Homo sapiens: one gene and its partner. The protein of the gene in region 2 interacts with the protein of the main gene of each other region in a pairwise test. Each region holds a gene or a part of one and is shown on either strand. Other genes may lie near its edges.

What was found. Proteins that work in one complex are often made in the same cells at the same time.
Region 1: the proteins of CYP27C1 (region 2) and MTNR1A interact in a two-hybrid assay, tested with the Homo sapiens proteins (one large-scale study listed by BioGRID and IntAct).

Annotation. Positions count from the first base shown.
Region 1 is NC_000004.12:186,547,859-186,552,567, forward strand, and holds part of MTNR1A (melatonin receptor type 1A), read right to left. Parts: intron 1-4,709.
Region 2 is NC_000002.12:127,202,066-127,207,985, reverse strand, and holds part of CYP27C1 (cytochrome P450 27C1), read left to right. Parts: intron 1-1,895; coding exon 1,896-2,086; intron 2,087-2,218; exon of another isoform or gene 2,219-2,327; intron 2,328-4,414; coding exon 4,415-4,614; intron 4,615-5,920.

The DNA.
Region 1 (4,709 bases), on a different chromosome or scaffold from region 2:
GTGTTAAAGGTGTAACATCCTGCAAATAATCCTGCTCATTTTCTATGCCCAGTGACTGTCTTCTGAGAAGGGTGGTTTAGTGAGGCATTTGTAACTTGTAAAACATCCACAGTACAGCCTGACTGGTTCAGCCTTTCACCCTTAAATGGAAGACGAATTACTGATACTGTACCTTTATTCGTCTTAGAGAATTTAGGATGAAACTTTAACAAAAACAAAATCATAATCCTTCAGCGACATTAACAGGCAATCAAAAAAAAACTATATGAACTCTCTTTAGGGTAGGAGTCTTTTTTCCCTTAGGCACTTTTCCGAACCTTGAAGGACTCAGTGAAAACCCCATCTTAAATAAACAGATTAACTGCACTAAATAATAACTCTAAATTGCTAAATCCAAAAGAGAGTTTTATTAAAAATGGTATAATCATAATAGAACCCTATTTATATATGAAAGTTAAATCAATGACAGGAAAATATGTTAACACTACAAAAGTATAAAATAATATTCTCATAAAAGTAACTTTTTAAAAGTTAAAACTTTGACTCTATTTTTATGTACTTACAGAGTATTTAAAGACCTGTAAGTGTGAAATATTGCATTCTGCCTTAAAAATAAAAATATGTTTACACATCAGAACTCTACACCAAGAATACTAACTAACAAAAGGAATTTATTCTGCTGCTGGGAATGTTATATTTAATTCATAATGCACTTTAAGTATACAGCAAGCCATTTAGTCCTTACAATATTAGTATTGTCCCAAATTAACAAGTGAGGAAACTGAGCAAATTAGGTCACTTGCCCTATGTCACACGCATGAGATGGCAAAGCCCGGGTTTTACTCCAGGCATCTGGTTCCAGAGGCCATGTGTTTCAGAGGGACACATCCCAAAAAAAATGACCTATAATAGCACTAATCTTCCATAGATAAGGAATGCTTAATCTATAAAGATATATATATATATATATATATATATATATATATATACACTATATATGTAAAACAATCTTTTAAAAAAAGTACATGGTAAAAGACTATATGATACCTACACAGACATATACACAAATGAGAACAGTTGGAAGTATTCCAAATTCAGAGGGAACAACGAAAGGAGCTAAAAAAGATAAGTAAATAATAAAAGGAAAAAATGGAATGAAAACTAACTGGCAAAAAATCTTAAAAGTAAAAATTGCAATTTAAACCACATCTTAAAATAAAAATGAGTGAACCAGAATTTTCTCTTGAAACAAAATCGTGTCCTAAGCTCCTATAGATGGATATAGGAGGCATCCAGCAAGCATTTAAATAAAGGAGGAGGGAATGAATGCAGGAAGGATGAAAGCACAATATCCCTTCCAAGAACATATTCCTAAATATGTTCAGAAAATCATCAAAGAGGAAATACTAATTACTGATTACACATTTTTATAATCCACCACTTAATAACTATTTGAGAAAACAAGTATAAATGTAAGTTAGCAGGCTAGTTCTCCAGCAGGCGTTTCTTCGAAAGACCTGAAGCCAGTGTGTTCTTCACTAATAGTTATGCCGTGTCTCTACCACTGATCAGTTTCTTTGAAATTCTCTCACTAATTCCGTCTCAATCTGCTGCTATTTCACATGTGAACTAGTTTTCACATCTCCCAGTTATTACATTGTTCTCTCCTCGTAAGATAACAACTTTAAAAAATTCTCATGATTGCTTTAAGCTCCAGCTACCATCTACCAGCCAACTTTCGCATTTCTCTTGAAAAAGTTTTCTGCTGTATAAATATGCTCCTATTTTCATACTTTTGTACCCCAAGTCTTCTCTTTGTTTGAAAATAAGAAGAACACACATTTCTAAAGTGCCTCGATAGAAAGTAATCTCTTTGAAAGTCGGAGCCGCGTTTGACCCACGCTTAGAACAGGACCTTGAATTTTGACAAACCTGCAAAAATTTACCAACCATTTACATTCTGCCTTATACTCTAGGAATGCAGTAAGTATTTATCCAGGTAAATGTTCAGCTCAATAAGCACCAAAACTACTCAGTATCAAAGCAAGTGAGCACGCTTTTAAACCGTGCACCCTAACAACTCAAATTCACCTCCATTAACTTAAATAATATTCAGCACCGTGCAAATGCATTTTCTCTCCCGTCTCTTCTTCTGAGACTGATTCCTTCAATGGCATTGCCGAAAGTGTATACAGCTCTGTAGAAAGACAAGTGTTTGAGTACTTCATCCAGAGAATCCAGCAGTTTATTTCTTATCTGCAGCATTATTTAACTGCACTAAAAATCACAGAGATATCACATACAGCGCTCAGGTTCCTGGTCACCTTGATTATTTGAGAGGGGCAGAAGTGAGGCTGCTGATCATCTTCATGAAGAGGCAGAGATGGCACCAATGATACCGTGCAGAGTTCTGTGCATTCATAAAAACGCTTCTTTAACAACAATCCACTAATTGCCTTTTTGGTACTAGAAAACTCTAAAGGAGTATGTGAGTTTCCTTTTTAGAAGAAAGGGTATTTCTGTCAGCGAGGCAACTTACAAATATGTAGAAAAAAGGGAAAGCTTAAGGCACCTTGTAAAGATCTTACCATTCATTTCAGTTATTCTGTTGATTATTTTTAAAAGGTGCTAAGGAAGAATGGGCAGAATGAGCTCCAAAGACTCTGTGGAGATTTAAAGTGACTTCCAAGGCATGATAGTTTTCAGTGTAGATGCTTTTTAAAACAGAACCATCAAATGGCAGTAAATATTAATAGAAGGAGGTCTAATCTAGGACTATTTTATCCTAGGTTAACTCCCAAAATTGCCAAGAGAAAAATGATGCTGAAGGCAAGCAAAAGTAAGCTCTATCTTATCTGTGATTAATTTAACACTGAAAATTCCTGCCAGAAATACTTTCTTACGAAATGAATAGCTGGAGGAACGAAAGATCAGACAAATTCAATCATGTATTTGAGAGTCTGAAACTACTGTCATAAGATTTACAGGGGATTCTGGGAATTACTTTGACATATTTGTAAAAACTTAGGGTTCATAACAATGTACTATACAAACCAAGATAGAAAGTCATAGAAAACTGAACAACAGCTAAGAATACAAGGGGGAAAAATCAATAAAATGTCTCTAAAGTAAAAAATTGCCTTGAATCAGTAATTTCAAATATTGTGGAAAGCAACAGGAGGGAAACTACAGCAGCGCCAACAAGAAACCTCTCGGCTTGGAGATCGCATGAAGTGGGGTTAGCTTGAAATCATTTTCCAAGTCTGTACAGTACAAGTTACGTCGTAGGTTTTTGAATGGTAGCCTGCTTGCCCAAGGAAGCTACTGTAGCTTCTAGAGCTGATTCACTTAAAATTAGAGAACAGCTGAATATCGAAATAATCAGTCTTTAAATCTCAGGCCTTCTTGCTGCAGAGAGATAATGGTTGTTACAAAAGGGAAAACTCAGACAATGGAGATTTTGTGTATTTTGCATAATGTCACAAATGGGAATTAGATTCTAAACCTTCCATTTCTGGTTGATTTCACTGTTTTCCAGTTCATATTGTCTACTTGTTTTTTTTTTTAAACATACACTTAAAAAATAAAAACAATCTAAAAAGAACTAATCACCAGATGCGTACTAGCATTAACATCATAATACTATTATTTGTACCTCATAATGATAGATAGGTGGGTAGGTAGGTGGATGGATGGATAGATGGATGGATGGACGGACGATGGGTGGCTGGATGGATGAATGGGTGGTTGGACGTATAGGTGGGTGGATGGGTAGGTAAGTGGACTGATAGGCAGAATCTAAGTTTATCCTTCTAGTATCCCTGTAAGAAAAGTGGCATCTTAAACAGCCGTGGTACATCCGAGACTTGAACCAGATCTCTGAGGCCCAAAGTCCACATTCACTCCGTACTCTATGCATCCTCTCTGAGTGGTAATGCAGAATGAATAAATATAACATTCTATAGAGACCTGAAAGCAACAAGTGCAAGAGAGGCTTCACACAGAGTCAGCCATCCAGCCATAGAGCCATTCTGGGAAACCATTTTTAAAAACATATACTGACAAGTTTACCCTACTGTGCACACAGATTAAATAATAATAATAATAAACTGCTTTTGACAGGTATCTTTCTAAAATGTATCATATCCCTGTCTTCTTAAGTAGAACACACCACTCATGATGACATCTCTCGCTGATGAATCAGGTGATGATAATACATATGTTGCTGCACTGTGCTGCTTTCAGGAGCCGTGAATGGTGAGCAGGGCTGTTCACATCTTCACAATGTAAGCACAAAAGGTTGTGCTTGTTCTGTTTCTCAGATCTGCATTTAATGAGTCTATTTCAACCCATACTGCTTGCTATTATGTGCTATTTCTTTAAATGTGTCAATCTTCCTCCTAATTTCCTGCTCATAATCTACAGGGACCTAGACACCAGTATCACAGTTTTGTGGCACTCTAAGTTAGAACAAATCCGCTGTAGGTGAGAGCCTGTCATTTTTGCTAATTTCCATTTATTGGCTGTACTCTACCTCAGTTAGATTGCCAGATAATTGAATTTTGAATAGGCAAGATAGTATTGTATTCTTGCCTGATATTTTGTAAAATAAGTTTTATTTAAGTATAATGTACATATAGAAAAATGCACGAATCATAGGTCTATAGTGCAATGATTTCCAGCAAACAGAGCACGCCCTTGTTAGGTGT
Region 2 (5,920 bases):
ATTTTAGGATCAGCTTATCAGTTTCTACAAAGAAGCCCACTGGAATTATGATAGGGATTGTGCTGAATCTATTTATACACTTTGAGGTGTATTTCTTTCTCAACAATATTAAGTCTTCCAGTCCATGAACATGGGATATCTTGCCATTTATTTCATGTCTTGCCATTTATTTCAGGCTTCTTTAAACAATGTTTTGTAGATTTCTTTAAACAATGTTTTGTAGATTTCTTTAGACAATGTTTTATAGTTTTCAGAGTATAGGTTTTACACTTCTCCTGTTAAATTTATTTCTAAGAATATTATTATTTTTTTTTTTGTGACAGAGTCTTGCTCTGTCACCCAGGCCTGAGTGTGGTGGTACAATCTTCACTCACTGCAACCTCCACCTCCTGAGCTCACGTGATCCTCCCACCTCAGCCTCCTGAGTAGCTGGGACTACAGGCTCACACTGCCATGCCTCGCTAATTTTTGTATATATATGTATTTTTTGAGATAGAATTTCACTCTTGTTGCCCAGGGTGGAGTGCAATGGCGCAGTCTTGCGGCTCACTGCAACCTCTGCCTCCTGGGTTCAAGCGATTCTACTGCCTCAGCCTCCGAGTAGCTGGGATTACAGGTGCACACCACCATGCCTGGATAATTTTTGTGTTTTTAGTAGAAATGGGGTTTCACCATGTTGGCTAGGCTGGTCTCAAACTCTTGAACCCAGGTGATCCCCTCGCCTTGGCCTCCCAAAGTGCAGAGAGTACAGGCATGAGCCTTTGCACCCAGCCATGTATTTTTTTTAGAGACAGAATTTTGCCATGTTGCCCAACCTTATCTTGAACTCCTGTGCTCTAGCGATCCACCCACCTAAGCCTCCCAAAAGTGCTGGGATTACAGACAGGCATGAGCCACTGCAGCTGGTCAAGTATTGTATTCTTTTTGATGTATTGTAAATTGAATTGTTTTTTAAATTTCATTTTGGATTGTTCACTGCTAGTGTATAGAAATACAATTGATTTTTGTATACTGATTTTGTGTCCTATTGAACTTGTTTATTAGTTCTAATAGTTTTTTAGTAGGTTCCGTAGGATTTTCTGTATGTGAGATCACGTCATCTGCCAATAGAGATAGCCTGACTTCTTCATTTCCAATCCAGATGTCTTTTCCTTCATTTTCTTGCTGGGAGTCAGTTTTAGAGGCTCGTTACAGACTGTCCACAGAGGGCTTGCTCTGCAGAGTTGGCTTGGTACTGCTTGGGTAGAGCTGTTGGGCCCATGGAAAGGGGCTGGCAGACAGGGCTCTGTTTGCTCTGGACATTTGTCTCTTATAATGACATTTCTCTCTTGTTGCTTCACACAGCTAAGGTAGTTTTAAAAACATATCCCTAAAGAATAAGAAAACTTCCATGATCATGCCTGTAATCCCAGCACTTTGGGAGGCTGAGGCAGGAGGATCACTTGAGGCCAAGAGTTCGAGACCAGCCTGGCAACATTGAGAGACCCCTGTTTCTACAAAAAATAAAAAATTAGCTGGGAGTGGAGGTGTGCACCTGCAGTCCTAGCTACTTGGGAGGCTGAGGTGGGAGGATTGCCTGGGCCCAGGAGTTGGAGGCTGCGGTGAGCTATGTTTATGCCACTGCACTCCAGCCTGGGCAACAGAGCAAGACCCTGTCTCTAAAAAACAAACAAACAAACAAACAAACAAACAAACGGAAACAACAAAAAAGAGATGGTTATGTGAAAACATGTTTATCTCAGCAATATGTAAATTACTGCTCTGATTCAGTGCTGTGTTAGATAGCACTTCCCTCTGCCCCAATTTTCTGCTCCTCTAGCACACAGGATGTTTATGTTAAAGGTATATCATATCTATGTATTTTTTCCTTTTTTGATTTCTCCATGGTATTGCAGCAGAAGCACACACGGGAATATGGAAAAATCTTCAAGTCTCACTTTGGTCCTCAGTTTGTAGTATCTATTGCAGACCGCGATATGGTGGCTCAGGTGCTCCGGGCGGAGGGCGCTGCGCCCCAGAGAGCCAACATGGAGTCCTGGCGGGAGTACCGAGACTTGCGGGGGAGAGCCACCGGGCTCATCTCGGCGTGAGTATGTGGGCCCGGGCTGAGCCACGGGCTGGAGGGGGAGCTCAGGGGGAGGCCCCCTCCTCCAAAGCTGAGTTCCTAAAAGCCAGCTCTTAAAAAAGCACAGAACCCCCCCATGGAATGATATCAGACAGTCTCCTTGTGCGATCTCCCAGACATGAGAGCCCTGCTGGGCTTTCTGGCTCCTCCTCCGTGCAGAGTTGTCCCGTCAGGAGCCAGGAGGGGCGACGCTGGCTCCGTGGTGGGCAGAGCGCTTCGGAAGCAGGGCTTTGTGGCTTTGGGAGTCCATTCAGTGATAACCGAGGCAGACAAAACTCACAGCGCCCTTGTCTGTGCACAGGGAAAGGAGGTGGTCACTATTTCAGGAAAATCCCTTTGACGAGGGGCTAAGAACCTCCAGCCTTGGTCGCCACGTGGTGATTTTCCTGTCTCATAGCAGACTGTGATTATTCATTTTGAACCAGCGTCACCAACACCTCTGTGCCTTCCAAGAGATCGTGGCCCGCGGCCAGGCAGGGAGGCCCAGGGCGCCTGCAGATGCCCCGGTCCAAATCCCCATGGGGTGGGACTTCTGTTTGCAGCTCTTTTGATATCTATGTCCTTATACATAAATTGGGGAGAAATACAGCCACCAATTTCTCAAGTAAGATAAATAAGAATCGTGACCAGATGTCACCAGGGTCCCTCAATTTCCGTCCTGGGGGAAATAATTAAACAGCTCCTCCTGGATGTTCAGGCCTAGAGGGGCCCGAATGCTGAGGCAGAATCTCTCTGCTGTCTGCCCCGTTAGCTGCAGGCTCAGGAGCCTGTGTGGGTGCCTGGACCCCTCTTCGGCTGAGATGGAGAGAGGCGGTGCTGGTGACTTCAGCACAGTGGACAGCAAAGGGAAGGGCAGTGCCTAGGCCCAGGCGCCGGGCTGGCTTAGCTTGGGTCCTCCAAAGTCCATCTGGAGGCAAGGCTTTGAGTGCAGGTGGTCTCCTTGAGAACGCGAAAGTGGAGCAGGGTTGGGAGGCAAGCCATGCGGAGGTGTGGAGGTGTGGGTGACGCTCGTGGGCACTTGAGGCTCAGTCCTGCCACGACCCTCTGAGAAACTGCAGAACACTCCTCAGACCTCCAAGGGGTTCCCTCAGCGTCCTGCCTTCACTGGGAGCGGTGTGCTGGGCCTGCTACCTGGGTGCTCTCCGAGTGCAGCCAGGAGCCCCAAGGCCCCACACCCTGGTAACAAGCTGCAGTCCCTCTTTCTTTCCCACACCCTGGTAACAAGCTGCAGTCTTCTTTCTTTCTTTCTTTCTTTCTTTCTTTCTTTCTTTCTTTCTTTCTTTCTTTCTTTCTTTCTTTCTTTCTCTCTCTCTCTCTCTCTCTCTTTCTTTCTTTCTTTCTTTCCTTCTTTCTTTCCTTCCTTCCTTCCTTCCTTTCTTTCTTTCTTTCTTTCTTTCTTTCTTTCTTTCTTTCTTTCTTTTTCTTTCTTTCCTTTCTCTCTTTCTTTTCTTTCTTTCTCTCTCTCTTTCTTTTCTTTCTTTCTCTCTCTCTTTCCTTCCTCCCTCCCCCCTCCCTCCTCCCTCCCTCCCTCCCTCCCTCCTTCCTTCCTTCCTTCCTTTTCTCTCTCTCTCTCTCTCTTTCTTTCTTTTTTTTTTGAGATGGAGTTTCGCTCTGTCGCCTAGGCTGGAGTGCAATGGCGTGATCTTGGCTCACCATGACCTCTGCCTCCCGGGTTCAAGTGATTCTCCTGCCTCAGCCTCCCGAGTAGCTGGAATTACAGGTGCCCACCACCACACCCGGCTAAATTTTTCTATTTTTGGTAGAGATGGGGTTTCACCATGTTGGCCAGGCTGGTCTTGAATTCCTGACTTCAGGTGATCCACCCATCTTGGCCTCCTAAAGTGCTGGGATTACAGGCATGAGCCACCATGCCTGGCCCTCTTTTTCTTTTTTAATATCAGTACTTACTTCATTTATATATACATATGTATGCATATATATATATATTTTTCTTTTGCTAATTAGCAATCTCATTTCTTTATTACAATATTATTTCAAGATTTTTTAAAGGAAGTCGTATTACTTTTACTAAAGATTATTACTTACCACTGGTAGTTTTTTCCTTAAAGTTTGCTTCAAAGGCAAGAGTGTAAGAAGCTCTAACAGGCTCCAGGGCTGCAGTTATTAACTTCTCTCTCCCCAGCAAAAAGTCTTTCCTGTCTTAATTCTACTTTGTTGGGCAGCTCTTGTTGATTCTTTATGGCTGAAATTTTTTCTAGAGGTTCCTTGAATTCTTTCCCAGAATGTCAGTGTAAGTAAGATGATTTGAAACTCACTTGATTCTTCTAGGGAGGGTGAACAGTGGCTCAAGATGAGAAGCGTATTGAGACAAAGAATTCTGAAACCGAAAGATGTGGCCATTTATTCTGGAGAAGTCAACCAAGTTATTGCTGACTTAATTAAAAGAATCTACCTCCTCAGGAGCCAGGCAGAAGATGGAGAAACCGTGACCAATGTCAATGATCTTTTCTTCAAATATTCAATGGAAGGTGAGGTGGAATCAGCAGGTGGGAAGGAGGGAAGAATGGATACTTGCCCCAAACCTGCAGATGTCATCTTGGATCATTCCCTGGGTCCCAGGCAGTGTGCTAAGTCTGGGACATACATGCATGTCACCTCCACGGTGCTAACGTGAACCTGGTGTGAACCACCGTTGACCAATGAGGAAACTGAGACTTTTTTTTTTTTTTTCTGAGATGAAGTCTTGCTCTGTCACCCAGGCTGGAGTGCTATGATGTGGTCTTGGCTCGCTGCAACCTCTGCCTCCCAGGTTCAAGCGATTCTCCTGCCTCAGCCTCCCGAGTAGCTGGGATTACAGGCACCTGCCACCACTCCCGGCTAATTTTTTGTATTTTTAGTAGAGACAGTGTTTCACCATGTTGGCAAGGCTGGTCTCGAACTCCTGACCTCGTGATTCGCCCGCCTTGGCCTCCCAAAGTGCTGGGATTACAGGCATGAGCCACTGCACCTGGCTGAAACTGGACTTAAAAAAGAACTTGCCCAATGCCACACCCCCATCCCTCTTTTTAGAGGCAGAAAGTTAGTTTCAAATTCAGGTCTTTTAAACTCAAGAAGCCATGTTCCTAATTACTAATTTACATGTTCAAAAAAAAAAAACATTTTGTTTGAGCATAATTTTTAAAAAGGAGTGAAGTTGAGAGGGCATCTACTTCAAACTCATTCTAGCTTTTAGTCATATTGAATGAGTGGTACATTCCTGTTCAAATAGCAATACCAAAAAGGCTTCAGTGAAGGTCTCCCTCTTTCCTGAATGCAGCAAAGGTCACTAGTCTCTCATGTATATGTCAAGAGATGTTTTATGCACATACAGAAAAACGCATGTGAATATTCTTTTTATTTTTAAACAATAAAGGGTAGTACACCAAACATACTGTTCTGCACCGTGCTTTCTCTTTACTTAAGAATGCATCTTGGGGCTGGGTGCGGTGGCTCACGCCTGTAATCCCAGCACTTTGGGAGGCCGAGGCGGGTGGATCACCTGAGGTCAGGAGTTTGAGACCAGTCTGGCCAACATGGTGAAACCCTGTCTCTACTAAAAATACAACAATTAACTGGGCCATGGTGGCGGGCACCTGTAATCCCAGAGACTTGGGAGGCTGAGGCAGGAGAATCGCTTGAACTAGAGAGGCGGAGGTTGCAGTGAGCCAAGACCACACAATTGTACTCCAGCATGGGTGACAAGAGTGAAACTCCATCTCAAAAAAAAAAAAAGCATGTTGGTCTAACATGGTGATGTTTGTGTAAAAAAAAAAAAATAGAATGCATCTTGGAGGA